Homo sapiens: one gene and its partners. The protein of the gene in region 1 interacts with the protein of each later gene in a biochemical or structural test. Each region holds a gene or a part of one and is shown in the gene's direction. Other genes may lie near its edges. The genes, in order: NET1, DLG1, MAGI1 and DLG4.

Region 1 (7,140 bases):
ACACACACAGTGATAGATTTTAAGGGATGACAAACCTGATTTCAAATATTCTGCCCTATTGTGCCTATAAGTACACTTCTGCTTGTCAGAATGACAATCAATGCAGTCCACATACTTAGCTGTTGGACTACACTCCCTTTCATTTGGCAGGAACAATTAAGTTTGACCCAATTAAAAATTACAGTCTAATAAACAGTTTTGTAAATTAATCAATAGTAGATATAGTAAATATATTTTTAAAAATTTCAGACTTTATTATAACATTCTATATATAAATTATATGTATATGCACACATACAGACATTCATTCTCCTGAATGTAATTGCTGTTAGTTCATGAGAAGCTATGAGAAGATTCAGACAAAAAAGAAAAACGTTGATGCAAAGGGCAATTCTCTAGTTATTAAGACTACTAGTTTTCTAATGGTAGGTCATTGTTTGCAAATTTGCTACATTTTTCTATGGGAGCCTACAGACCAAAGGGGAATCATTTAGCTAGTGATAGCAATGGCAAACAAAATATCACATCAAAATCATCAAATAATTTGGAAATTAATAAAGTGTTTTGATGAACACTTTGTACTCTAATATATACATATATATATATATATATATATAAAACTTGGTAAGCAGTTTTGCAAAAATAGTTTGATTTACTTAGATAATGAAAGAAAATAGGTTTTTAAATTATTGATTTACATAATAATTTACATTCATTTATTGATTGTTGAATTTATTTAATATCAACTTGCAAAATGATTGGTGTCATCACATAGGGCTGAAGGTTTTGGAAATAATCTTTGAGGAAGTTCCCCAAAAGAATATTTGTTTTGCAAATCCATGGTTGAAAAAGTTTGGGTTACACTTTGCTCTAGTCAAGTTAGTAGGAATATCTTCTCAGAGAGGGAGTTCTAGAGTCTGATTTTATATATATGAAAGCTGAAATCAAAACAATTTCCTCAAACCCTATCCCGGTGAATATTTTAAGGGAGAAGGATGATTTGTGGGGAACTGAAAGAGAGAGGATTCAGAGAACATTTGTCATGGTTTTGGGACTGTTCTATACAGTGTAAGACATAGAACATGGGGACAATGGCATTCAGACACCAGAAAGTTGATCTCTTGTAAGATCAAGAGATGTCACCAGCCTTTCCCAGGTCTTCAATGACCAACCCTCAGAGCGGTCACTTTTCTTTGCTCTTCTTCTATGGTACCCAGCCATTTTCTGATGAAAATTTGTCTTCTATTCCTTATTTCCCTAATGTCTAGCACAGATCCTGGCATATTATAGCAGGAATTTAATAAATTCTTGTGAATAATTGAACAAAATCATAAGTTCTCAAGTGAATGAAAATTGGAAACAGTTGCTCTGCATAAAACAATAGTATTCAGGTCACTGGAAAGAAGTGCCCACCCCCACCACTGGAATCCCCACATTGACATCCTGCAGTATCTATCATTTTGTGAGTAGTTATTACAAGTTACCAAAGGACTGACCACCTCTGATGACACAATCAAAACCAGTTTCAGGACCTGCAAAGCTGAGGACAGACCCTGAATTCTGAGGATCTCACCGAAGTATGTTGAAACTATTAATATGAAACGGCTGTTTCTGTGGGTAAAAAGACCAAGCGTCAGCGATTCACATGGTCCTATCTTGTGAACAAAAGTTCTCTGAAAAGGAAGTTTGGAGAAAGGAGACTTTATTCTAGTGAACAGTTTGCAAACCAGGGAGACACAGCCTTCGGAGTAAAAGAAAGGTGATTCCAGAGAATAAAGGGGAGGGTTTGGCTTCTATAGAAAAAGTTCTTGTCCAGGTTTCCAATCAGATGTGTTTATGCAAAGGAAAGATTCAGACTTGCTCAGTTCAGATTGGGTAATACAGCTGAACCCTGATTGGATAAAGCAGATGAGTTCTGATCGGTTACATCAGGTGAGCCCTGATTGGTCAATTCGGGTAAATTGTGAAAATCCCAAAGGGGTGTGAGTTTTCTGGACACAGAGTAGTTGTGACCTACTTGGGACCTGACTTGAAGAATTGCTCTTACAGGTTTATTTTTGTTCATAATCTAAACATCTGCATCCTCTGAAGCTCTGTCTTGGTGGAGACCAACTCCCCAAATATTAAGAACATTTCTGTATTCTTACACTCTAACTGCTACAAAGCAGTACTTTCTTCTTTAATTTTTGGGGAGGGATGGGGAAGGTAGAACAGAAGTGGTTCTTGACCAAGGTCAACTTATGTTCAGAGCTGGTTCCTTCCGGTGGGTTCATGGTCTCGCTGACTTCAAGAATGAAGCCATGGACCTTCATGGTGAGTGTTACAGCTCTTAAAGGTGGCACAGACCTAAAGAGTGAGCAGCAGCAAGATTTATTGTAAAGAGTGAAAGAACTAAAGCTTCCACAGTGTGGAAGGGGACCCCAGTGGGTTGCCCTGCTGGCTGGGGTGGCCAGGTTTTATTCCCTTATATGTGCCCTCCCATGTTCCATTTTTGTCCTATCAGAGTGCCCTTTTTTCAATCCTCCCTGTGATTGGCTACTTTTAGGGTCCTGCTGATTGGTGCTTTTTACAGAGCACTGATTGGTGCATTTTACAATCCTCTTGCTAGCTACAGAGCACTGATTGGTGTGTTTTACAATCCTCTTGCCAGACAGAAAAGTTCTCCAAGTCCCCACTCTACCCAGGAAGTCTAGCTGGCTTCACATCTCAATGTTACTCCCTAATTTCTTACTCTTTTTAAAACAAAAACATTTTTCCCTCATGTTATAAAGGTACTGCAAATTCAATATGTCCTTATTTTTAAAAAAATTAAATGCAAAAAATAAAAATAAAAATTTTGAATACCTAAAGTCTACCTAGAGACATTTTAATACATTGACTTTTTAATACATTTAATACATTTTAATACATTATCTTTTTTCTTTGTATAATCTCTTGTAATTCATAACTTTGAATATACTGAATATACCTCTATACTTCATGTTTTTATTTCAAATTACCAGTATACTATTACATACTTCACACTTCATTTTTGTTGGCTGAAAATATTCTTCTCAGTGGATGAGCTATAAATCATTGTTTATTTAGGTTGTTTTAAATGTTTCTATTATAAACAATGTCATTAATAGCTTCATGTTTATATAATTTTATTTTTTAGGATAAATTTCCATAAGTGGAAATATACTGGCAAAAGAGAAGTGTTTTTTTGTTTTTTTTTTTTTGGAGACGGAGTCTCGCTCTGTCACTGGGCTGGAGTGCAGTGGCACGGTCTTGGCTCAATTCAAGCTCCGACTCTCTGGTTCAACTAATTCTCCTGCCTCAGCCTCCTGAGTAGCTGGGATTACAGGCATGCGCCACTCTGCCCAGCTAAGTTTTGTATTTTAGTAGCGACAGGGTTTCACCATGTTGGCCAGGATGGTCTTGATCTCCTGATCTCGTGATCCGCCTGCCTCAGCCTCCCAAAGTGCTGGGATTACAGGCGTGAGCCACAGCGCCCGGTCAGGAGAAGCTATTTTTAAAGACTTTGACACATATAAAGCAATATTTAAAATCAAAGAAAGTGTAATTTGTTTAACAATTTTTTTTTTACTTGAAGCGGTCTTTTATTTTATATTATGTCTTTTGCTGACTTTTACAAGCAAAGGATGAAGTCACTTCATTCTGTTTTGCTAGGGAGAGACTGTGTCATGCTTATTGGAAGACATAAGGGCTCATAATTAGATTTTGCTGGTTCCCTAGAGACAGTCCCGGGAACACACTTGCATAACCTTTGGTAATTGGAAATATATCTCATATTGGCCACGTGCACAATAATTCAGTGTGAATATGGCCAATAAACATGCCTTGTTTACAGGTCATTAGTTTGGACCTCTCTTCTCCTCAAATGCTAAGAAAGATCTGGTGAATTAAAATGCTTCCAGTCCATTTGCCTTGGCCTGTAGTGAAAGTCCTAATGAACAATGAAGGAGGTACCGGGCCTTAGGGACTCAGGGATGCGCTCAGGAGTTAAGGGCAAATTTTCCTAGGTTCTTTCCTAGGCAAGTAGATCCCGGGAGCGGTGGAGGGGCGGGACTCCACGTCTCCTAGGAACCGCTGCGCGCTCACTGATTGGCTGATCGCTGCTCAGCCGCCATTTTCAAATCCCCGGATGACGGCGGTGGCGGCTGCAGTCCGCTGACAGGCGCTTTCTGCCTGGCAGAGGCTGGCGGGCATCGTGCCCGTCCCTGCCGGTCTCCCGGGCACCCGGCCACCGCCCCACCCCCTCCTCCGTGCCATGGAGCCCGAGCTGGCGGCTCAGAAGCAGCCTCGACCGCGGAGGCGAAGCCGCCGGGCCTCTGGGCTCAGCACGGAGGGAGCGACGGGGCCTTCGGCCGACACCTCCGGGTCGGAGCTGGACGGGAGGTGAGTGTGGGGGAGGGGAGGGCCGAACGGGAGGTGAGTGTAGGGGAGCGGAGGGCCGAACGGGAGGTGAGTGTTGGAGAGGCAAGGGCCGGGGGGAGGGGAGGGCTGGCCGGGAGTTGGATGTGGGGGGCGGCGAGTGGGGGTGTTGGTGAGGGCCAGGGGGAGGCGAGGGCCGCTGGGAGGTGAGTGGGGGGTGGGGGAGGTGACCGCGGGGTTGGGGGGGGGGACGGGGGCCGCTGGAAGTGAGGGTGGCACAGGCTGGAGTGACAGTGTGCCTGGCCTTGGACCGAGGTCGGTCCTGAGACCCCAAACTGCGATTTTCCCTGCCTGTGGCAAAGGGGCGGGTTTATTGAGTCTCCTCGCCTCCTGACTGTTTCTCAGGGGAGACTTAGGAAAAACCACAATGGTTTTGTTCTGCACACCCAACTGGCTGTAGGCTGGCGTTCCCAAATGCCTTTGCTCAGACCGAAACTGTCATGGTGAGCACCACGAGAATGGGCTTCCATGTCCTGAGAAAGAAAAGACTAAGGGATAAGTTGACTTCGGGATATGTTATGAGATGCCTATTAGAGAGTTCATCACAACCATTTTCGTGTTTTTTCTTTTTACTTTTTGTGGAAGTATACATTGAAATGAGAGTGTATGACTCGTGTTTGGCTCAGTGAAATTTCACAAAGCGAAGCTCAGGGGATAGCTAGTGAATTAGGAGGAAGGGAACCAAGTGAGAACAGTATCCAGGAGGCCAAATGAAGAAAGAATTTCAAGAAGAGGACGTGGCGAGCTATGTCAGATGTTATTGATAGGTCAAATAAAATGAGGATTAAGTAAAATAAGATGAGGATTAAGCTAGATGAGGAATGAAAATTAAATTTGGTAATGAGAAGAGAGTATTGATCTTAGATGGTTTCCAAGAATGGTTACAATATCGAACTTAGAGTGTTTTGCAACAGGTTGAGAAGAGAATGTGCGATTTGTTCAGAAAATAATGTGAGTGCCAACACTAGGAATATGGAAATGGAAAAATACTCTTGTTACTATTTAAGATTTATAATCTAGTGGGGAAGAAAGATAAGTAGGTTAATAATTATTATAATATGTGATAAAAGTTATTATAGTGATATACACAGAATGCCGTAGATTAAAAGGAACACTTAATCCTGACTGGAGAGAATAGGAAATGATTTCCTATTGTAATCCCTGAGTCTTTAAGGACCAGTTTAGAGAGCAGATGTAAATGGATGATTTCAGGCAGAGAAGCATGTAGAAAGGCCCTGAAGCAAATGAGTCTGATGAGTTCTGGGTATATATTCTATTTTATTACTATATTAACAGTGATATTTGTATAGAGGAGAGGAAACCAATATGGGGAGAAGGAGGAGGTAGTCATGAGAGATGATGCTAAAGAGGTAAGCGCCACATCATGAAGAGACCTTGTATGCCTTGACAGAGTTTGGGTTTTATCTTCATGGTAATGGGGAAATACTGAAAGACTTTAAATGAGCCAATGGCATGACATATTTGCATTTTAAAAGATCAGTTTGCCTTCCATGAGAAAAATAAGCAACATTTTGGAGTCATCTCACTCTTCATATTTTATGAAAACTATTCCCCAAAAATGTGCACATATACATAAACATTTCAGGAGATTTGTGGACCCAGCTGTGTATACCAAATTAAAATTTCCAAGTTTAGCTGATGGATTGGTAGGAAATCAGTCTGCAGTAGTCTAAATGAAAAAATGATTGTTCGAATCTGATAGCTGGCAATGGGATTGGTGAAGAGAAGTTTCACTGCAACAGGAAGACAAGAAAGAATAGAGAGAAATAACACAATTTTGTGGGATAGACTCTTAAGAAAGAATAAATTCCCTTGATGTGCTGTGCTGAGTTAACAAATAGAGGGAGAGGTTGAACAGACAGTAGAGGAGAAAAATGGTTGAACAAGGATCCAAGAAGGCAGAAAAGGACAGAATCCAAATTCAAGGTAGAGGATTTAGCCTAACAAGAAGCTATGGATGATATATAGTTTTGAAGAATGGGGTGTGTTGTGAGCAGGAATTTGAGGACTTTCCCACCAGGCCTCTATTTTTTGTGTGAGGTAGGAAATGATACATTGTGAGAAAAGCGTAGTAACACAGGCAGCATGAGGAGAGTGAGACACAGTTAGAAGAACCATGGAGAGAAAATGGAGAATTAAATAACATATTCCTTTTCCAGAAAAGATGTAAGATCATCTACAAGAATACGTAAAATATTACAAGATAGTATTAATTGTGAGGCAAGAAGCAACTAAGCACTGTATCAGATTCAGAAATCATAAGGAAAAAGATTTGTGTGTATGATTATGTGACTATTGAAAAACGTTCTGCAGGCAAAACTCAGTATAAACTAATTTGAAAGACAAATACGTACAGTACAATTTACCCACTTAAATTGTACTACTTAGAACATTTTCATCACCTCAAAAAGAGCATTTGTACCCTTTAGCTATTGTTCCTCTCCTACCCCTTCTGCCCTAAAACCTAATCTGTCGGTCTGTAGGAATTTCTCTGTTCTGGACATTGCATATGAATGGATTTATGTAATGTGTGTGGCCATTTTTGGTGGGCCATCCTTTGCTCTTTTTTTTTTTTCTTTTGAGACGGAGTCTCAGTCTGTCACCGGGGCTGGAGTACAGTGGCATGATCTCGGCTCACTGCAACCTCCGCCTCCCGGGTTCAAGTGATTCTCCTGCCTCAGC
Region 2 (7,026 bases), on another chromosome or scaffold:
GCAGATTTCTTAAGTAACTAAATGTGTGTATACTCAAGACTGAAATCCTAGATAATTAGATTTATTTATATTGGAATAGAATCTGAGAAAAATAAATCTGAGAGAGTCTCTTACATGTATATCTTTATTGCCATCTACTTAAATTCGGATCACTTGCTCAAGTTGGGTGGCTACTGGAGTAATATTCAAGTAAGCACAGTATTAATGTACTGTACATACTTTAATATAGTAGTTTGTGATGTCTCCTAACTTTTTATATTATTGATTTTTTATCTTTTCCCAGGGCCTTTTAAATTCCTTTTGTTTAGTTAGGACTATACATTGTATTTTTCACTGGTTGAAGAACTTGAGTACCTAAGTAATTTGGTAACCTCCCATAATCCACTGGTACTGTTCTTAAGATTCAGGTAATTCATGAAGTTAGATTGAAAAACATTTTTTTATTAAAATAGAATTTTAAGACAAATGGTGGTAGAGTGGGTGTTTACACTGTTTAATACTAACAGTTAAATGATAGGTCCACATATATTTGCTTACTTGAGTTGCCTGAAATTCAGTTAGAACATTCTTCAAGAAATAAACATTTTTTAATACCATTGGTTAAATCAATTATTTTTAAAGGCTTTTTGTAGCAGTCGAACCCTTTCTGTGAAGAACATATTCAGAAATCTTGTTTCTCCAGTTCATAAAACAAGCAAAAAGTAGAGCTGCTTTGGCAAAATTTACTTTGCTGTCAAGAAAATTCACCAATGTTAAGTTCTCAGGTTGGTCTTTCAGTCAGTGTGAAACAATGCCTTTTGCTAATCGGGTATATTGGTTAAACATGTCAGGGACTGATGGCAGCTATCACTTAGCAGCCACAATTTGGTCATTTAAAAATAAGCTGATGTCAAGTTAGCAGAAGAAAAGCACCATCGCCACCCCCTTTTTTAAAGGCTAAAACAGTATATGGGTTTTGCCTACTCAGAAATAACAGCGGGAAGATCACTTCAGCATTTGTCTCTTAGGAGAGATGTGCCCTACCAAACATGGCTGAGGTGCAGTCTAAAAGAAACAGACTTACAGTGACACCTCTGCAGATGGGTGACTAATCCAACGACAAGTTGCACATACTTTTAAAGAAAGAACTGTGGAGTATACTTCAAAAGTCCTTGGTGTATTTTCTTGAACCTCACCTGTTCAGCAGTAATGCCTCTGAAAGGACTTTCCTCCAGAACAAGTCCATTTAATTTAGAATCTTTATATTACTCACCCATATACCTTTATTTGTTGTGTTCCTTATGTTAGTACAGTTTCTGCGTCCTTTAATGACAGGAACCTGTCCATAAAGATAAATCATATTCAGTCTCAATTTTTTTTCTTCTATCCTCAGGGAAATTCAGGGCTTGGTTTCAGCATTGCAGGAGGTACGGACAACCCACACATTGGAGATGACTCAAGTATTTTCATTACCAAAATTATCACAGGGGGAGCAGCCGCCCAAGATGGAAGATTGCGGTATGTTTTGCGCTTTTTATTGTGATGCTGAATCCACTTTGTGTATTTTTCTTGAAGCAGACTGGATAAGGGATAAATACAAATAACAAACACGATCATGATAACTAGCATAGGGTAGATGCTTTAACAACATTCAAGTCAATGAATGAGATAATTATGCTCTAAGCATTGTGTTCCTGTTTTCATTTAGACTCCAGTTTTATCTTAGATATTATAACATTTTGAATAACAAATTTGGTTGATGGTTTAAATCTTTGTGAGCATATTTATAGAAATCATGAGTTTCCCTTTGTGTTTTCAGATACACTCACAGAATATTTTCCATTTCCTCTCTGGCTGGGAAACATGTGTATAAACTTATTTAAGTACACTCACAGAATATTTTCCATTTCCTCTCTGGCTGGGAAACATGTATATAAACTTATTTAAGATACGGAGGATAGAGGATCACACATCCATGTTGAATCCCACACCACAAAGACTATATGCAAACTTTAAATAATATATTTTCTTATTGACTAGATGAAAATAACATTTGTCTCTGTTTAAATTTAGTGTTCCATTTTGGAAGATATATTTTGCAAACTTTGATTTTTTGAGGGTCATAAATTATGTCATTTTTCCTATTTCCTTGTTTGTTGTTCAAATACCCTGAAGTTTTAGGACTAAAGAGTTTATGTAGTCTGTTAAAAACAGCATCTTATTTTAAGGACGTTGATGCCTTACGCAGTTTTTGAATTTCTAAGCTTTATAATTCTCACTGGGTATGACAGGTGGTATATTAATGAAATCAAATAGATATAAAAATTAATCATTTGACCATTCATGTAAATGTAGACATTTACTTCCTGATTCTGTTAGATATAGAAGCTTGTCAGGACCAGTTTTAATATTTTAATTATGTTTTGTTTACCCTCTCTACCCAATTTGAGATGACCATCTTTTTTTCCTGGTGGAATACCATGCAATCAAAGAGACCAGAACTAGGGAAAAGGCTAAGACTAGGAACAAATCAGACTTTTAAAAAACATAACACCATGGCAAATTATAAGTTCTTTACCTACGAAACCTTTGAATTAAGTGACCTAATCTTTATATAAATTTCAAAAAATAACTTAATTGTTTTATGTCTAATATATAGGTTGGAATAGGCACTCAGAAAATTATTTTTACTTTATCTCAGTTTTCACACTATCTCTGTGACCTTAAACTCGTGATGTGAGCCTCAGTTTTCTTATCTTTGAATCACAGCTCTGTCACTTATTATCTGGGTGGCCTTAGGAAAGTTATTTACATTCTTTGTGCCTCAGTTTCTCCATCTGTGAAATAGGGATTAAAATATATATTAAGCTTACAGGTGTCATGAGGGTTAAAATACCAAGAAAGTGCCTGGCATGTGGTTAGTGCTAAATAAATGTTTGCTATTTTTATAAAGTGTGTCTTAATGCCTACACAGAATAAGCATGCAGGAAGTATGCAAATGGTAGCTGTAATTATTATTTAACATTTTTATATAATCTATTATTTTCACTATTTCTTTTGTTCCTTTTGCTGGCCCTTGGGAAATGTTTGTATTTGTTTATATTAGTTTTTGATATACTTTCTTCATTTATGTTTTCTGGAATTACTCCAGAATTATTTATAATTCTCTTTACCTTAAAAAAGAAGTAACAAAAAATTGGTAAAGTGGAAAATTTATATTTAAATTATATTTAATTTTTATTTTTAATATTTAATTGTTTTCTCAGGGTCAATGACTGTATATTACGAGTAAATGAAGTAGATGTTCGTGATGTAACACATAGCAAAGCAGTTGAAGCGTTGAAAGAAGCAGGGTCTATTGTACGCTTGTATGTAAAAAGAAGGAAACCAGTGTCAGAAAAAATAATGGAAATAAAGCTCATTAAAGGTCCTAAAGGTATGTGGTAAGTCAAACTAAGATAAATCTTTAAGAAATCTCTGAGTTAAATATACCTATGAACTTTATCTGTGACATACATTCCAAGTACAGTATTAGTAATATTCTACAGAACTTGAGTGGATTTTAATTTCTCCGTTATTTCTACTGATTTTTGTCTTACGTAGCATTTTAGAATATTTACATTTCTACCAAGATTGCAGCATTTGAAAAGTTCCTTTTTTTGCGGGGTTTTTTTGTTTGTTTTTTTGAGGCAGGGTTTTGCCCTGTCACCCTGGCTGGAGTCCAGTGGTGCAGTCATGGCTTACTGCAGCCTCAGCCTCCTGAGCTCAAGCGATCCTCCCACCTCACCCTCCCAAGTAGCTTGGACTGCATGCACACACCACCACACTGGGCTGATTTTTTTTATTTTTTGTAGAGACGGAGGCCTCCCTGCATTGCCTAGGCTGGTCTCAAACTCCTGGGCTCAAGCAGTTCTCCCACCTCAGCCCCGCAGAGTGCTGGTATTACAAGTGTGAGCCACTGCACCTGGCCCAAAATTCTTACGTTTATTGATGTATGCTTTTATACATTTTACTGCAGTGAGCATATATATAAATTTATAAGTTTTTTATGATTTTTATATTCAATATTTGCTCAGCATGTTTTTAAGAGTTTTTAAAAGTAGGGAACAAAATATCTATTTGTTTTATAAGTGGATATGTCCCTATTTGTATTAAGTATTCTTATATTGAAGACTTCTAGCATTAAAAGAGTGAAATATTTGTGTCCTTGAACACTTTGAAGTTTAGTATTGCTATTAACTTGTGATAATCTACAAAATACTTTAAATGCAGGTACACAGGCTAAGTTAAAAGAAGAAGTGTTTATAATATGTATTATGAGCAGTTACATCTGCAGTAAAGGACTGTTAAGATGTGATTGCTGAATTTTTAAAACATTGATGGCTTGAGGATAAATGGAAATAGTAGTTTCAATATGTGGCTTCATGGAAGAGGGAGGATGTCAACAAATGAAAAAGGAATGGAGAGCTGAGAAATTATCTGATATTGAAGCTATGGGATTTAGGAATTACAGAAATTCCTTACTTAAAATTGTTAATTCATAGAATATTGAAGAAGAACAAAGGTATTCACATTTTTAAAGCCTGTTGGTTCTGCCCACCATCACCAGACAATGTTGTTATTTCTTCTCAATAATTTTGTTCTTGTGAAAATATTAAAAGTGTAGGTAAGCATAATTATGATGGAAACAAAAGTAAAACATAATTTCGCAATGTCACTTTGGAATAACAAGTGCATTTGCGAAAAGATACTAAGAAGGAACATGTGGGATAAAAGGAATCTATTCGTAACTCTAGGAGCAGCTGTATGTCTAAGTGTCCCTTGATTGCAGAACATATACTAGTAGATAACTAAATAGATTCTTTTCTATTTTAAAAAATATTAGTGTGAGGGAATAATTACCTTGTAGTTTTCAACCATTTCTTTCTGGGCTTAAGTTCATATTTATGGATGAGAATCTAGAACTGTTTTCCAAACAGGTCTTGGGTTTAGCATTGCTGGAGGTGTTGGAAATCAGCATATTCCTGGGGATAATAGCATCTATGTAACCAAAATAATTGAAGGAGGTGCAGCACATAAGGATGGCAAACTTCAGATTGGAGATAAACTTTTAGCAGTAAGTATAAGAAATCTATTGTCTTTTAAATCATTTTGTAGTCTGTTTATTTTTCTGATAGATACTGGAATTTCTCCATACCAAAAAGGTCTAAATGATGTTTAAATTAGCAAATACTAGCCTTGCTGTATCAAATCCTAAAAAATGATTCTTGGTAATTCTTTATTTGTCATTTCTCTTTTCTCTGCTAGCTCCTCCTCCCTTTTCCTTTTATTCCTTTGTTGTTGTTGAGGGCTTGTATGCACAGAGTGTTTCATCATAATCCTTAGGTTTATAAAACAATGTCATCATTTGTTTATGCATGACCCTTTTTTATTTTACTTCACTTAATAGTATAATGAAACCTAGTAATTACCCAGCCCAAGAATTAGAACATCAACCATTTTGTGTTTCTTATTCCTTTGCTTCTTAAAAATTGTTTAATCAGGCCGGGTGTGGTGGCTCACACCTGTCTGTAATCTTAGCACTTTGGGAGGCTGAGGTAGGTAGATTGCTTGAGCCCAGGAGTTTAAGACCAGCCTGGGCAGCATGGCAAAACCCTGTCTCTACAAAAAATACAGAAATTAACCAGACCTGGTGATATACACCTATAGTCCCAGCTCCTTGGGAGGCTGAGGTGAGAAGATCACCTGAGCCCAGGAGGTTGAGGTTACAGTGAGCTGTGATTGTCCCACTGCACTGCAGTCTGGGTGACAGAGTGAAAGCCCATCTCAAAAAAAAAAAAAGTTTAATTATATACATATGCCTAAATAATTTTGTTTAGTATTATTTGTTTTGAAGCTTTTTCAAAACACTATTGCACTGTATGAGACTTTCATCTCCAGTATTTTTTTCACTCAATATTGCTTTACTGAGACTTACCCATATCATTGCTTAGAGCTAAAGTTCATTCATTTTATCTCTACATACTATTCCACTGTATGTCTGTACTGCAATTTATTTGTCCAGTCTTCATCAGTGTATTAGTTTGTTTTCACACTGCTATGAAGAATTACCCGAGACTGGGTAATTTATAAAGGAAAGCGGTTTAATTGACTCACCAGACTCAGGAAACTTACAGTCATGGTGGAGGGTGGGGGAAAGCAAACACGCCCTTCTTCACATGCCAGCAGGAGAGAGACGTGCCAGCAGTGGAAATGCCAGATGCTTATAAAACAATCACATCTCATGAGACTCACTCACTATCAAGAGAACATCATGGGGAGCCACCTCCGTGATCTAATCACCTCCTACAAGGTCCCTCCCCCAACACATGGGGATTACAATTCAGGATGACATTTGGGTGGGGACACAGAGCCATACCATATCAATCAATAACTGTCTCAGTCCATGTTCCTTAGGGAAACGGAATCTGAAGAAAAGCTAAAGTGCTAAGGTATTATTTGGCTGTGTGATCTCAAGAAGGCTAGAGTGAGTAAAAATGAGGAGTGAAGCAGAGAATGAACGAGAGCCAATAGAAGGTAGAATGTGTCTGAGCTGGCTGTAATTTTATAAGGTAGCTTGTTGCTTGTCATGTATAACAGTCTTCTAGGCAGACACTGTAAAAACCATCCGGGCATCATAAACCTTACATCCAGCCATCCAGAGAAAAGAAAGAAAGGTTTATCTGCTGGCCCTTTTATTCTCCTGTCTCTTGTCTACCCCCTAGGGGTTATTTGTCCCAAGCTTTTGGATTGTGTTACCCAACTCCCCTGGGCGCAGTTTCTAGGGAAGCCAGCTCCTATACTCCATGGCACAACACTTCACCCAAGCCCAAAAATGGTAGAGTTGCAGTGGTATGACAGGTCAAACATAGGTTTGTGACATGTTATGGCCCTCACTGTGTGGAACACATCAGCCATGCCCAGTCCCAGCCAGAAGAGGCTCAGAAAACTGGGAAGGGCAGGAGACAAGATGAAAGTAGTATAATAGTCAGGACTCTCCACTGAGCA
Region 3 (7,026 bases), on another chromosome or scaffold:
TAATAAAATTTGTACAGTCACCCCTCAGTGTCTGCTGGGGATTGGTTTCAGGACACCCGCATCCCCCACCAAGGATATAAAAATCCATGGATGCTTAAATCCCTAGAAAATAGCCTAATATTTGTGTGTAACACACACACACACACACACACACACACCCCTTCCTATATTATTTATTTGTTTGTTTGTTGTTTGTTTATTTATTTGAGACAGGGTCTTACTCTGTCACCCAGGCTGGAGTGCACTGGGGCAATCATGGCTCACTGCAGTCTCAACCTCCCTGGCTCAAGTGATTCTCCCACCTCAGCTCCCGAATAGCTAGGAGTACAGGCACACACCACCATACCTGGCTCATTTTTTATTTTTTGTAGAGACAAGGTCTCACTATGTTGCCCAGACTTGAATGCCTGGGCTCAAGCGATTCGCCTGCCTTGGCCTCCCAAAGTGCTGGGAGTGCCACTGTGAGCCACTGCACCCCACCTCCTATATACTTTAAATCATCTCTACATTACTTATGACATCTAATACAATGCAAATGCCATGTAAATAGTTGTGATACTGTATTACTTAGGGAATAACGAGAAGAAAAAAATCTGTACGTATTCATCACAGCTAAAACCATTGTAGGTCTAACAAATTTTCTATCTGTGATTGGTTGAATCTAAGGATGCAGAACCCACAGATATGGAGGACTGACTGTATGCAGAAATACTAGGATGTTTTAGAGTAATTTTTGGCAAAAATGATCTAACAAAGCCTATTAGCATTGCTAGCCTTAATTATTTTAAGGAAGAAGAAAGTGACTTAAAGATAAATCAGAAAGTCTGTTTAAACCAAGCTGTTCTCTTTCATCCTCTAGTAGAGGAAACATCTGGTGACTTAACATGACTTCCGAATCCTTAGATCTGGCTTCAGAGGTGACTCTGACTTAGCCTGAGTGTTCTTGGACATGGACACCTGCTTTGTGGTGTGGCACATAATAATTTTAATTTACTTAATTCTCCTTGCAAGAATACTGAGGAAAGCAGTTAATGCTGACTATTTGTAGTTAAGGATCATGGCTTGGGCTTGATTCGGAATTATCAAACAGTGATGGGTCCTGTGAAGAACTTTAGGGCTCAGTGACTATTCCCACTGTTTATCCCCGTGTCTTCCATTATTTCACCTGTTCAGAGTATTTTGTTTCTTTGCCTATATTGAAAATCTTCCATCTGATCAAGCACCACCATTCTTGTCCTGCAACTGTGTTCATCTTGGGGGTATCATTGCTTTTATCAGTAAAATAATCCTTCTCTTTTTTCTCCCCTCTCTGCAGTTCCAGATTACCAGGAACAGGACATCTTCCTCTGGAGAAAAGAGACTGGATTTGGATTTAGGATTCTGGGTGGAAATGAACCAGGGGAACCTGTGAGTCTTTTGCTTGTCTCTCTTCCCAGCATATTTTTCTAAGGCTTCAAAGCAAATTGGCGACAGTGACAAATCACCAAGATTTAAGTCCAGCTAGATGCAACACTGACTCTTTAATCTTGAGTAGTGTGGGTTTCTCATTGGGTTTTGTGGAGCTCTCTTTGTCTTGAGGAAGAAGAGACTAGATTCTTTCTAAAAAGTTTGTATGAGTGTTTGTGAAAGGTGGGAGCTGCCTCTGTAGACCACCCCTTTTCCCCCAAGGGAGATGAAAACAGAAAGCAAAACAGGAATAGGCATCACCTAATATCACAGTGGCCTGGTCCTTCTGGCCAGGTCCCTTCACTCTGCCAGCAGGTAGTAGGCTTTGTATGTTGAGTTGCTGGTGTGCAGAGAGTACTTCGCAAAGCCTTATGAGACAGTGATTGGAGAATGTCAGACCCCTGCCTTTACAAAACTTGAGAAAGAACCCTGAGTAAGGGTCAAGAAACATTGAACTTCCCTGGGCCTCAGTGTCCTCCATTTTGGAATAAATTTAGAATAACATAACAGGGTTCCTTTGAAGGAAGAAAAGAAAACTGAAATAGGTATCGTTAATTTCCTTGTGGTAATAACAGCCATTATTCATCGAGCGCTTACTATGTGCCAGGTTCTGTGCTAAAGGCTCTTAACATACATTCTCTCATTTATCCGTCAAACCCACCAGTTTATCCCGTTTTCACATCAAGGAAAAGAAAGGCTAACTAACTTGCCCAAGATCGCAGAGCTACCAAATGGAGGGACTGACAAATAAGGTCTGACTCGAGTTCATGTTCTTAGCAACTATTTTGTCAAAGTTCTTTGTAAACTATAAATGCCACGTAAAGGTAGCTATAGCATTATTGTCTGCTGGAAAGGCAAGGCAGGCACAAATATTTTAGCTAAGGTTTAGTGAATGGCAAATATAACAGCAAGACACTAACTATAAAGAGTGCTCTGCTTTCGGGTGCTAAAAGACTTCAAAAATGGAGATGTCCAACCAACTTTTGCTTCATTCATTCATTTAAGAGTATTTATTACAGATTCCCTATTCCTAGGCATGATGCTAGACCCTTAAATAAAAGTAATATTAATATTTTAATTAGCAGAGTTTTATGGAAAGAGAGTTTTTAGGTAGCTACCAAAGAAGAATAGGGTATATAATGAAGGGAGAAAAGTAATTTATATCTGCAAAGGGGAAAAAGAGAGTGAGTCATCAATAGGCCACAGATAAACATCTGGAAACTAAGCAAGAAATACTCTTTCCACCATTTAAGAATTGTTGCAGTGCTTAGCACAATGTCTTGTACACAGTGGGTGCTCAATAAATGTTTGCGGCATGCCTGCAGACATGAATGAATGAATTGTTCCCAGAGATGTGAAGGCTATTGATGTAACAGTAAACATAGGAGAGCAATGTTTCATCCATCGTTCAATTACTCAACAGATTTATATTGGTCACATCGTACCACTGGGTGCTGCTGATACTGACGGCCGCCTGAGGTCTGGAGATGAATTAATCTGTGTGGATGGGACGCCAGTAATTGGAAAATCACACCAGCTTGTGGTCCAGCTTATGCAACAAGCTGCCAAGCAAGGCCACGTCAATCTCACGGTGCGGCGTAAAGTGGTTTTTGCGGGTATGTATTTCATTCATTCCTTCAGACAGTGCGTTGTCACTTTATTCACAGAAAAGGCCTCCTTCCTGTGTCTGCCTCCTTGAGCGTCTATTTTAGCAAATGTTTGCAAATGTGATCAAGCTCAGAATTTCCAGATGGCTTGCTTCTCTCAAACCCTGCAAAAATTACTGTCATTCTAAAGTACTTTAATGTGCCGTTTGCATGTGTTCAACAAAGGCTTCCAGAGGAAGGCTAGTTGAATATATATTACTTCCCTTCTATCTCCTTGCAAATCAGAACTTAGCCATCCTCTTCATTTGATGCTAATCCTCAGCAAATGAGGTCATTATGAAAGTCAGAAGAGTTGTAGCTTCATATCAAGGGAACAAAAATCGGGTTTGTGCTACAAAATAAGCTCATAAAAAAGTTACTGATTTCTTACTGTCCTATGTATTAAACCAAGATTTTTTTTTTTTCTTTCTACAAGAAAGTTGTAGAGCTGGCCAGTTCTAGGTCAGCTTTGATTCCTTCTTCCTGCCCATAAGCTTTGAACTTTAATTCTCAAAATACTACATATCCTTTCAGGCTCAGCTCAAATATAACTTTCTTCCCTTGGAAATTCCTCCTTCCTCCAACTGCCTTCAGATTTTAGCATTCCCTCCTTGCCATTCTAGTGACTCATGGTTTACTGCTGTATCAGAATCTGCCATTTTGAGACAGTGAATTGTGTGAGTGTTTGTCCTTTCCCTTGAAAGCTCACGTTGAACACACCTTGGTTGTTCACCTTTGGATGCAGCTCCCACCTTGAAACCTTTAAGGCAGAACCCAGAGTGCAGCAGAGGTGATTGTCTTCTATCAGTGGAATTACTGGAGAAATATGACCTGAAATATTATGAATTCTCTTGGCATTCATATTAGTGAAACAGATACCTGTCAGATAAAATTAATTGGTAACTTCTTTTAAAAAAAAAGAGTATAACCCATTTTAAATGGTATATGATTAATTATAGAATTAAGATGTTAAATTCCAGTGTGTTTGTGACCTCACAATCCTTCTTAACATACTATTCCATGTAGCTAAAAGCAGTCAGCTGGAACGAGTTTTTGAGATGAGATGAAAACTAACTATCTCGCTTCCCTGGCCCAAATAGAAATAGTAAGGCAATGTGATTTTTTTTGTTGTTTCAGGTTTATTTTTTTAAATCTTAAATATTTTGGATTTTTAGCTCTGTGTAAAAGGCGTGTCAAATCTATGAAGAGACATTATGCAAGTGAACTAGTCACAAAAGGAGAAATATTGATTCCCTTTATATGAGATACCTAGGGTAGTCAAATTTATAGAGATAGAAAGCAGAATGATGGTTGGTGGGGGGTGGAGGAAATAGGAAGGGGAATTAGTTTTTAATGAGTACAGAGTTTCAATTTGGGAAAATGACAAAATTCTGGAGATGGATGATGATGATGGTTGCACAAAAATGTGAATGCACTTAATACCACTCAACTGTATGCTTAAAAATGGTTTAAAAATTTGTTATGCTTATTTTTCCAAAATTAAAACAATCTATGAAAAGAGAAGCTTTTGGAAATAAATACAGTCTGATCCAAAACTTGGACACAACACACATTTTGTTTTTTGGCATAGTTGGTTCCACCTACGGTGTTGGCTATTTAGGAGTGCTTTACCTTGCAGTCTGATGGTAACACTAGAACGGTGACTAAATTCAGAAGGAGGCCAGTGTATCCAGTTCTGTGATCAGAGTCGATGTTGACACCTGGAAGCTAAGAAGAGAAGCATGTGTATGTCTCACAGGTGTTGTCATGAACCCCACATAGGGCGGGTAGCCTCAACGTTACCATCACCTTACTGTTTGTCGCCTGATGGAAAAAGCTGGGTGGAAATGTGACTGGAAAGTAATGACAATGTGAACGTGCATCCAAGGTTGTATCTATGAAGCCAAGATGGCGGTCTTCACGGGTGTAGCCCTCACCTACGCTTAGGCCCTTCCCTTTGTGCAATGGGGAAATATTTCACAGCAGGCCGATCTTGCTGCAGACTTGATTCTGAGTGTGGATGTCGACATATAGCATGCTATAAACAACAAACGCTATTTGGGAGTCCCATTTGGTGTTAGGTGGGATCAATGTTCGTAGATACTGAATGGTTAATATTTGTCAAGAGAAGCTGCTTTCAATCCGTATATCCAGGTATTGTGAAACCAGGTGCTGTCTCCTCCCCTCGGTTCACGTTTTGATTTCTAGCAGGAGTTGCTGGAAGGAGGGAGGGGCAGCAGGATGGAGGGGCTGCAGGACACGGTGATGTACGCGTGCATCTCTCTGCTACAGTGCCCAAAACCGAGAACGAGGTGCCCTCGCCAGCCTCCTCTCATCACAGTAGCAACCAGCCGGCCTCGCTGACAGAAGAGAAGCGCACTCCGCAGGGCAGCCAGAACTCGCTGAACACGGTGAGCTCGGGCAGCGGCAGCACCAGCGGCATCGGCAGTGGCGGCGGCGGGGGCAGCGGCGTGGTCAGCACCGTGGTGCAGCCCTACGACGTGGAGATCCGGCGCGGGGAGAACGAGGGCTTCGGCTTCGTCATCGTGTCCTCGGTGAGCAGGCCCGAAGCAGGCACGACCTTTGGTGAGTGCTGAACGTGAAATTACCCAGGGTTTCCCACCATGCCTGGGAGTTTTTGTTCTCTTGCGAGTGAAAGCTGACTCAGACCTCACGTGCAGAAATGCTTTATAGCTTCTTGCTCTGGGTAATTAAAGACTTAATTGGAGATGGAGTTGATTTGGTAGCTTTTTCCCTTTTGAAGGTTGGGAATATTTGTTCAACCCTTTCAACTTCCACACTGAGAATGTGATCACGCATACACAACTTAAAGCATACATCAGATTTGCGTGAAATTTGAATAGCAGCCGGGCGCTGTTGCTCACGCCTGTAATCCCAGCACTTTGGGAGGCCGAGGAGGGTGAATCACTTGAGGTCAGGAGTTTGAGACCAACCTGGCCAACGTGGTGAAACCCTGTCTCTACTAAAAGTACAAAAAGTAGCTGGGCGTGGTAGTGCATGCCTGTAATCCCAGCTACCTGGGAAGCTGAGGCAAGAGAATCGCTTGAACCTGGGAGGTGGAGGTTGCAGTGAGCCGAGATTGTGCCACTGCATTCCAGCCTGGGTGACACAGCGAGACTCTGTCTTAAAAAAAAAAAAAAAAGAAAAGGAAAGGAAAGAAAAGAAATTTGAATAGGAACCCCTGGACAGCATACAGAGTCTACAGTTTTTGCCAAAGCAAGGCTTTCGAAAGGTCTTGAATAGGATAGCACTAATTGCAAGGGCCTCAGAATGGTCTTAAGAATGTCTTAAGAGTTTTTACAAGGAGCATACGGCTGTAAAAATGCTCTAGGAAAAACAGAGGTGTAAGGAGTAAAAATACTACATGAGATGCTAGTCTGCCTCATCTGTGTTCTTTCTCTACTCTATCCCCATAGGAATTTTTTTTAATTTTAAATAATATTTTTACTGTTGCTTGATTTAAAGTCTGGTTAAAATCTGAGTTAAGAGTCATTCGATTTTCCTGTCTCGTCCAGACATTGAGGGTTTCAGCAAAGTATGGAGAAACACAGTTGTCACTTTCTCAGAAGGATTCACTCTCTTCTGGGTACACTAGCAAAGACCAATAGAAACCCAGATGATTGCAGAAACTAGTGATATATGAATCTGCTTCCCATTGCAATGGATTGATTATAGATGTACACTCCAAAAATGATCCACCTTCCTGATTGGGTAAAAAGTCATTTGTTATCTCCCAAGCACATTTGTTACTTACTATGGAATACAATGGGAGAAGGGGAAGGGCTGTGCAGGCTGTGTGGGCTTTTCATGTACCTCAGCTCTATCCCTGAATGACTTATCCACATGGAAACTGGCTAGAATCAGCAAGGTGCTACAACCCTTTAGCATTCTCATCCAGTAGAGCTCACTTGGC
Region 4 (7,026 bases), on another chromosome or scaffold:
TTCCTTCACACCCCCAACCTCCATTTCCATTTTCTGTGTCCAGAGCTCTGTTCCAAGCGCCTGCTGCCCTCATTTGCTCTTGTCCCTTCCCCGCCTCCTCCCCCTACCTCCGCCTCTGGGCCTGGCTCGCCCTGTCCCCAAGTCTCCAGCTCTTTCCATCTGTCTGGCCTGAGACTTCACATGGTGGGGCCTTGCTGCCTCGTCCCCTGCCCCAGCTTTGCTCCACTCCTGAGTTCTCTTCCCCCTCTGCAGCCTTTCCTCCCTGCTGGCTGGCTGGCTGGCTGGCTCTTGATGCTGTCTCTCTCTTCCTCCCACGCATTCTCCTCTCCCTCTCCCTGATCCCCAGCCCAGGCCGCTGGGGCCTGATCAGTCCTTTCCCTCATCAGTCCTCTCCCTCCATCAGCCAGCTCCCCTTTCCCATGTTCCCTCTTGCCTATTCATCTTCACCTTCCCTCTTTTCCTCCTCCCCTCTCTCATCCTCTTGGGTTCTCACCTCTGCCATATCTTCTTTCTATCCCCCTCTGCCCCCTCCATCATCCCCCACCACCTGTTTCCCTTTCTCCTCTCTGCTCACAGCGTCCTCCTCTCTCCAGTCCCGGGAGGCCTGGTTTCTGGGACCTTCCATTCTCCAGTCCACTTTCCATCTTCCCCTTCCTCCATCTCCTCTTCTGGGGACACAGGATGGGGAGGACTGGAGAGCACCAGGCAAGCTGTGAGATTGAGGGGACACTGTGGGGTCAGGGTGGGGATTCTAGGATGTTGTGGGATGCTCTGGGAAGGGGGAGGTTGCTGACATTTCACCAAGAAGATGGGGAGGAGGTCTCTGAGCCTAGGGAGCGGGCAAGCAGGTTCTGGAGTTAGAACTGGCAAGAGAGGAGTTGGGGGATAGGAAGGGTAAGAGGTCCTGGGTCAGGGGCCAGATAGGGATAAGACTGTGAGATCAGGGCAGTGAATGAGGCTGACAGAGCAAGGAAAGGAAGGCCCTGGAGACAGGGATGGTACAGAGTGTTTGTGCGAATTCTGTGGATGCTAGGAGTGAGGGAAAGAAGACTAGAGATGCTTTGTGCAAGGCAGGGCCATTAAATCCCTGAGCAGGGGGAAGAGGAGGTAGGGAGCCTGAGGGGTGGTAGTTAGTACAGAGCTGCTGCTGATCAGAGCTCAGGAGCAGAAGGGGGTGGAGGGAGAGAGTGTTGGAGGCCATAAGCATGGGGTGGAGGTCTCAGGACAAGGCCTCACCTGGGGAACAGGAGAAGCCCCAATTTTCAGAAGAGAGGGGAGTTGATTGAGAAGTGTAAGATTGTTACTTGAGAATAATCTTGAGGGTATGAAGGTAGGGTAAGGGAGAATGGTGATAAACTCTCTGGGGAATCAGAAATTGAGATGGAGTAGCTGGGTGGGGTGGCATGTGCCTGTAGCTACTCAGGAGGCTGAGGTGGGAGGACTGCTTGAGCCCAGGAGTTCAAGGCCGCAGTGAGCTATGATCACACCACTGCACTCCAGCCTGGGTGACACAGCGAGACCTTGTCTCTGGAAAAAAAGAAATTGGGATGGAGGATGAGGCCACATTGGTAAGGGATGGGGCTGGAGGGTGCGACAGGGCCAGGGAAGCGGATGGAGAATGGAGGCTGGGGTTGGAAGATGGATGTTGAAGGGCGAGACAGGGATGGAGATGGAGCATGTGGGATGCGGGCAGAGATAGGGATGGGAAGCAAATGAATGTCGTAGTGGATGAAGGTGGGTGTGCTGGGAAGGAGGTTCCAGGATAGGGATGGGGATGGGGATTGAGGATGGGCTATGGGATGGAGGACGGGCTATGGGATGGAGGACGGGCTGCGGGATGGGGGACGGGCTGCGGGATGGGGGACGGGCTGCGGGATGGGGGACGGGCTGCGGGATGGGGGACGGGCTGTGGGATGGGGGACGGGCTGTGGGATGGGGGATGAACACGTGGATGAGATTTTGGCAGTCAGTGACTGTTGGTTGGACAACAGCATTTGCTGATATGTGAAGGGTTGGAGGGTGGTGTTAATAGATTTATGGGTGTGAAATCTGTGATACAGCTTGAAAATGGTCGGTAGTTTGTAGGCTTGAGAAATAGCAGTAGGAGAGGGGAGGGACCCCTTTGGACGGGGAGAGCGGGAAGGAGACTGGGGAATCCTTGCGCTTGGGCGACTGCAAATACATGTTTCTTTAAGGAGGAAGTAGGTTGGGGACCCCGGAAGGAGGCTCTTGGCGGCCTCCCCCCATTGCCATAGAGACGTGGCTTCGGTTGCCCTGGCAATTGGGGAAGCCCCTAGGACCGGGCTAAAGCGGGCCCCGCCTGGGAGTCTAGAGACCAGGCGATTGACGTCAGGGACCTGGGCACGCCCCACTTTAACCCTTTCCCGAATGAAGTGGGGGGAGGGAGTAGATGAGCGGGATAGGACCCGGATGTCTTTCACCACTCCCAGTTCCTGACGTCCTTTGCACTGCGTAGGGTGAGGGGCGTAGGGGAGCGAGGAAGGCAGGTTATTCAGGATGCGCTGCGCCCACAAACCTCTTCAGCCCGGCCTCCTCTCGGCCTGGCTAACGTGGGGCGGGGCCCAGGGCAGGAGAGGCGGGGCTAGCGGATCCCTTCTGCGCTCAGGAGTTTGGTCGGCCCCAGGCCACGCCCCACCCCCCTGTTGTCCTGACGACAGGGCCTCCTGGAGGTGGGTCTCCCCGGGTCTTGACTGGTCCTAGATACCGTTGCTAGGCAACACGGTCCTTAGAGGAAGGGGTGGATTGGACGGCTGGTTGGTGAGACCGAGGGAGGGGCCTGCAGCTGGGGAACCCCGGATTCCCGGGGTGCAGGGTTTAGGGCAAATGTCTGTGAAAGTGAGGGGCAAGTCTAGGGGAGGGTTATGAAAATATCTGGGTAGATATGGGGGGTTGGGGGGATGGGGCAGGAAATGGGGACCAGGACCCGGTGGACATGATCCCTGGGGTGTCCATGTGTAGCACATAAGGCATGTAACACCCTGTGGTGTTACATCCGGTGAGAAGCTCCCTTCCCCCAAGCCTACCCCCCTCTCCCCACTCTTTGCCATCTGCTGCTCCCCTCTCCGTCTGGCTGTCTCCCTTCCCGCTTCTCCTACACCTCCTTCCACATGCAGGGGGCCCCGGGCTGGGCAGAGTTAGATCCTTGCGCGTGTGCATCTGTGCGTGTGTGTGCGCGTGCGCATGTGCACGCGTGTGCGTGTGTGTGATGTGGATTGAGGCTGGGCCCTTGAGCAGCTCTCAGGGTGGCGGAGTGGGCTTGGCTAAGAGGCTGAAAGGGTAGCCACGCTGATGGGACCCTCCGTTATGGGCTCCCTCTCGAGTCAAGGCTCAGGCTGCTTTTTGTCTCTTGTTTTCCCAAACAGGCCAATTCTCCCCCAGTGATTGTCAACACAGATACCCTAGAAGCCCCAGGATATGTGAGTTGTTTAGATTTTGGGGCTGGGGCCATTGCAGAAGGAAGGAGGGAGTAAGGGAGGGCAGCAGATGACGGGCAGGTGGTCAGACAGGAATGTCTGTCTCACTGCTTTTGTGTTTCTGTCCCGTGCTGGAGTTGCAGGTGAACGGGACCGAGGGGGAGATGGAATACGAGGAAATCACATTGGAAAGGGTGAGCAGGCTCCTCCATCGGCAGTCCCCGTGGCCTCCCGTCTGTACCTTTCTTTCTGCCATGTGGTCTGGGTGGCTAGCCCCTCACCCTGTGCCTTCCTCCTCTGGCTGCTCCAAGCCATTTCCCACCCCACTTGCCTTGCCAGACTTGGGCAGTGAGGGGAGCTGACCCTCTTCCCCTCCTTCACCCAGGGTAACTCAGGTCTGGGCTTCAGCATCGCAGGTGGCACTGACAACCCACACATCGGTGACGACCCATCCATTTTCATCACCAAGATCATTCCTGGTGGGGCTGCGGCCCAGGATGGCCGCCTCAGGTGGGGAGAGGAGACAGGGGTTAGGTTGCTTGGTCCCTGGAGAGGGAGGGCCAGGGCAGCAGGAAGCTCTTGGCTCAGGCCCACCTTGCTGCTCCCAGGGTCAACGACAGCATCCTGTTTGTAAATGAAGTGGACGTGCGCGAGGTGACCCACTCAGCGGCGGTGGAAGCCCTCAAAGAGGCAGGCTCCATCGTTCGCCTCTATGTCATGCGCCGGAAGCCCCCGGCTGAGAAGGTCATGGAGATCAAGCTCATCAAGGGGCCTAAAGGTAGTAACTCATTTTGTTCCCACCCCCATCCCAACTGTCCTGTGCCCCCAAGCCTGCTTCCTGGGCACCCACCTCTGGCCTCCCCTCCATCCAGGTCTTGGCTTCAGCATCGCAGGGGGCGTAGGGAACCAGCACATCCCAGGAGATAATAGCATCTATGTAACAAAGATCATCGAAGGGGGTGCTGCCCACAAGGATGGGAGGTTGCAGATTGGAGACAAGATCCTGGCGGTGAGGACTCCATCTAGCCCATTTTCTAGCCCAGATTTGGGTCTCACCTACTAGCCCTGGCAGGCCCAAGTTCATCACTTCACCCCAGTGCTTCTGTCTTGGGCCATTTGTGGCTTTGTCTGAGCTTTGCTTTCCTTGACTCCAGGTCAACAGTGTGGGGCTAGAGGACGTCATGCATGAAGATGCTGTGGCAGCCCTGAAGAACACGTATGATGTTGTCTACCTAAAGGTGGCCAAGCCCAGCAATGCCTACCTGAGTGACAGCTATGCTCCCCCAGACATCACAACCTGTGAGAGCCCTTCAAACACCAAAGTTCCCCATGACCCATCCCGTTTAACCCATGACATGCAGTCCCACGACATCCCTGTAGCTGTCCCTCTTCAGATATTCCCTATGAAATAGCCACAACCTCTGATCCTTGCTGTTGTTGGAGAAGAGATGGAAAATCAATTACCATAAAAGAACTAGAAAAGATCGTCAACGATCTCTCTCCTGGAAGGCACAAAGCCTGGTTGGTTTTATGGCTAATTTTGTGAAATTCTCAAGGAATAGATAATTCTTCTGCTCTTCCAGAGTACAGGAAAAGATAAAAGATTTCACATTTCATTTTATAAGGCCAGTTCGAATGGTCACAAGGATAGTGTAAAATAAGGAGAGTATAGACCCGTTTTGCTTCTGAATAGAGATACAAGAGTTTACAATAATATAGTAGCAAAGCAAACATGGCAGCATGTTAAGGGAATAACATAGGGTTTGTTTCAGAAAACTAAAGATGGCTCAATATTAGGAAATCTCTTAATATGATTCATATATTAAAACGTTACGGGAGGCTAAGTGTGGTGGCTCATGCTTGTAATCCCAGCACTTGGGAGGCCAAAGTGGGAGGATTTGAGACCAGCTAGGGATTTGAGACCAGCCTAGGCAACAAAGCGAGATCCTGTCTCTAAAAAAATTAAAAAAATTAGCACGTGCCTATACTCCTTGCTACTTGGGAGGCTGAGGCTGGAGGATCGCTTGAGCCGAGGAGTTGGAAGCTGCAGTAAGCCAATGATTGCGCCACTGCCCACCAGACTGGGTGACAGAGCGAGAGGAGAAAACGATGTGATTATCTTAAATAGACGTGAAAAAGGCATTTGGTGAAATTCACCATCTCTTTTGGATGAAAGCTTTTAGTAAACTAGGAACACAGAAATTTTCCTTAAGATGGTGAAGACTAGTTATCAGGAACCAGTAACAAACATTTTATAATGATACAATTTTAGCAGTGTGTCCATTAACTTATTTTTTAATTTAATTTTAATTTTTTTCTTGAAATGGAGTTTCGCTCTTCTTGCCCAGGCTGGAGTGCAGTGGTGTGATCTCAGCTGACTGCAACCTCTGCCTCCCAGGTTCAAGTGATTCTGCTGCCCCGGCCTCCCGAGTAGCTGGGATTACAGGTGCCCACCATCACGCCTGGCTAATTTTTGTAGTTTTAGTGGAGACAGGGTTTCACCATGTTGGCCAGGCTGGTCTCGAATGCCTGACCTCAGGTGATCTGCCCTCCTCGGCCTCCCAAAGTGCTGAGATTACAGGCGTGAGCCACCGCGCCCGGCCTCCGTTAACTTACAAAGAGGGCAGGGATGCCTCTTCCCACTGCTATTATTCTTCATTGCTTTAGAGCAGGGTTTCTCAGTGTTACTCCTGACATTTTTGGACCCAATAACTCTTCATTGTGGGGGGTTGTTCTGTGCCTTGTGGGATATTAAGCAGCATCCCTGGCCTCTGTCTATCAGATGACAATGGTACTCCTCCCCCTCAGTCATAACAATTAAAAAATGTTATGACAGAATTGCCCCAGCGAAATTATGGTGGTTGAGAATCACTGCTTTAGAGATTTCAGACAGTGTAACAAGACAAGGAGAATAGTTACATTTGGAAGGGAAAAACAAAAGTTATCTCTATTTGTAAATTATACTACTGTGCATCTAGATCAAAATCTAAGTGAATTAACTGGAAAAATATGCAAAGTTAAGAATGTGGCTATTTGTTGGCTGGGCGAGGTGGCTCATGCCTGTAATCCCAACACTTTGGGAGGCCAAGGCGGGCGGATCACCTGAGGTCAGGAGTTTGAGAACAGCCTGGCCAACATGGAGAAACGCTGTCTCTACTAAAAATACAAAAAAAAATTAGCTGGGTGTGGTGGCGAGCGCCTGTAATACCAGCTAATCCTGAGGCTGAGACAGGAGAATTCCTTGACCCTGGGAGGCGGAGCTTGCAGTGAGCCAAGATCTCACCACTGCACTCCAGCCTGGGCGATAGAGCGAGACTCCATCTCAAAAAAAAAAAAAAAAAAAAACCAAAACAGGCTGGGCGCGCCGGTGGCTCATGCCTGTAATCCCAGCACTTTGGGAGGCCGAGATGGGTGAGTCACCTGAGGTTGGGAGTTCGAGACCAGCCTAACCAACATGGAGAAACCCCATCTCTACTAAAAATACAAAATTAGCCGGGCATGGTGGTGCATGCCTGCAATCCCAGCTACTCAGGAGGCTGAGGCAGGAGAATTGCTTGAACCTGGGAGGCGGAGGTTGCGGCGAGCTGAGATC

What was found.
Region 2: the proteins of NET1 (region 1) and DLG1 form a complex in vitro, tested with the Homo sapiens proteins (3 studies listed by BioGRID and IntAct, with this or other methods).
Region 3: the proteins of NET1 (region 1) and MAGI1 form a complex in vitro, tested with the Homo sapiens proteins (3 studies listed by BioGRID and IntAct, with this or other methods).
Region 4: the proteins of NET1 (region 1) and DLG4 interact in a biophysical measurement, tested with the Homo sapiens proteins (2 studies listed by IntAct, with this or other methods).

The regions. Positions count from the first base shown.
Region 1 is NC_000010.11:5,408,420-5,415,559, forward strand, and holds the start of NET1 (neuroepithelial cell-transforming gene 1 protein), read left to right. Parts: upstream 1-4,137; 5' UTR 4,138-4,273; coding exon 4,274-4,401; intron 4,402-7,140. UniProt on the Homo sapiens protein: Acts as a guanine nucleotide exchange factor (GEF) for RhoA GTPase. May be involved in activation of the SAPK/JNK pathway Stimulates genotoxic stress-induced RHOB activity in breast cancer cells leading to their cell death.
Region 2 is NC_000003.12:197,134,611-197,141,636, reverse strand, and holds part of DLG1 (disks large homolog 1), read left to right. Parts: intron 1-1,372; coding exon 1,373-1,497; intron 1,498-3,245; coding exon 3,246-3,415; intron 3,416-4,958; coding exon 4,959-5,095; intron 5,096-7,026. UniProt on the Homo sapiens protein: Essential multidomain scaffolding protein required for normal development. Recruits channels, receptors and signaling molecules to discrete plasma membrane domains in polarized cells.
Region 3 is NC_000003.12:65,377,913-65,384,938, reverse strand, and holds part of MAGI1 (membrane-associated guanylate kinase, WW and PDZ domain-containing protein 1), read left to right. Parts: intron 1-1,315; coding exon 1,316-1,407; intron 1,408-2,869; coding exon 2,870-3,062; intron 3,063-3,812; exon of another isoform or gene 3,813-3,890; intron 3,891-5,384; coding exon 5,385-5,678; intron 5,679-7,026. UniProt on the Homo sapiens protein: Plays a role in coupling actin fibers to cell junctions in endothelial cells, via its interaction with AMOTL2 and CDH5. May regulate acid-induced ASIC3 currents by modulating its expression at the cell surface.
Region 4 is NC_000017.11:7,200,610-7,207,635, reverse strand, and holds part of DLG4 (disks large homolog 4), read left to right. Parts: intron 1-364; exon of another isoform or gene 365-681; coding exon of another isoform or gene 682-705; intron 706-2,448; exon of another isoform or gene 2,449-2,690; intron 2,691-3,383; coding exon 3,384-3,437; intron 3,438-3,568; coding exon 3,569-3,628; intron 3,629-3,819; coding exon 3,820-3,944; intron 3,945-4,042; coding exon 4,043-4,212; intron 4,213-4,306; coding exon 4,307-4,443; intron 4,444-4,588; coding exon 4,589-4,733; intron 4,734-7,026. UniProt on the Homo sapiens protein: Postsynaptic scaffolding protein that plays a critical role in synaptogenesis and synaptic plasticity by providing a platform for the postsynaptic clustering of crucial synaptic proteins.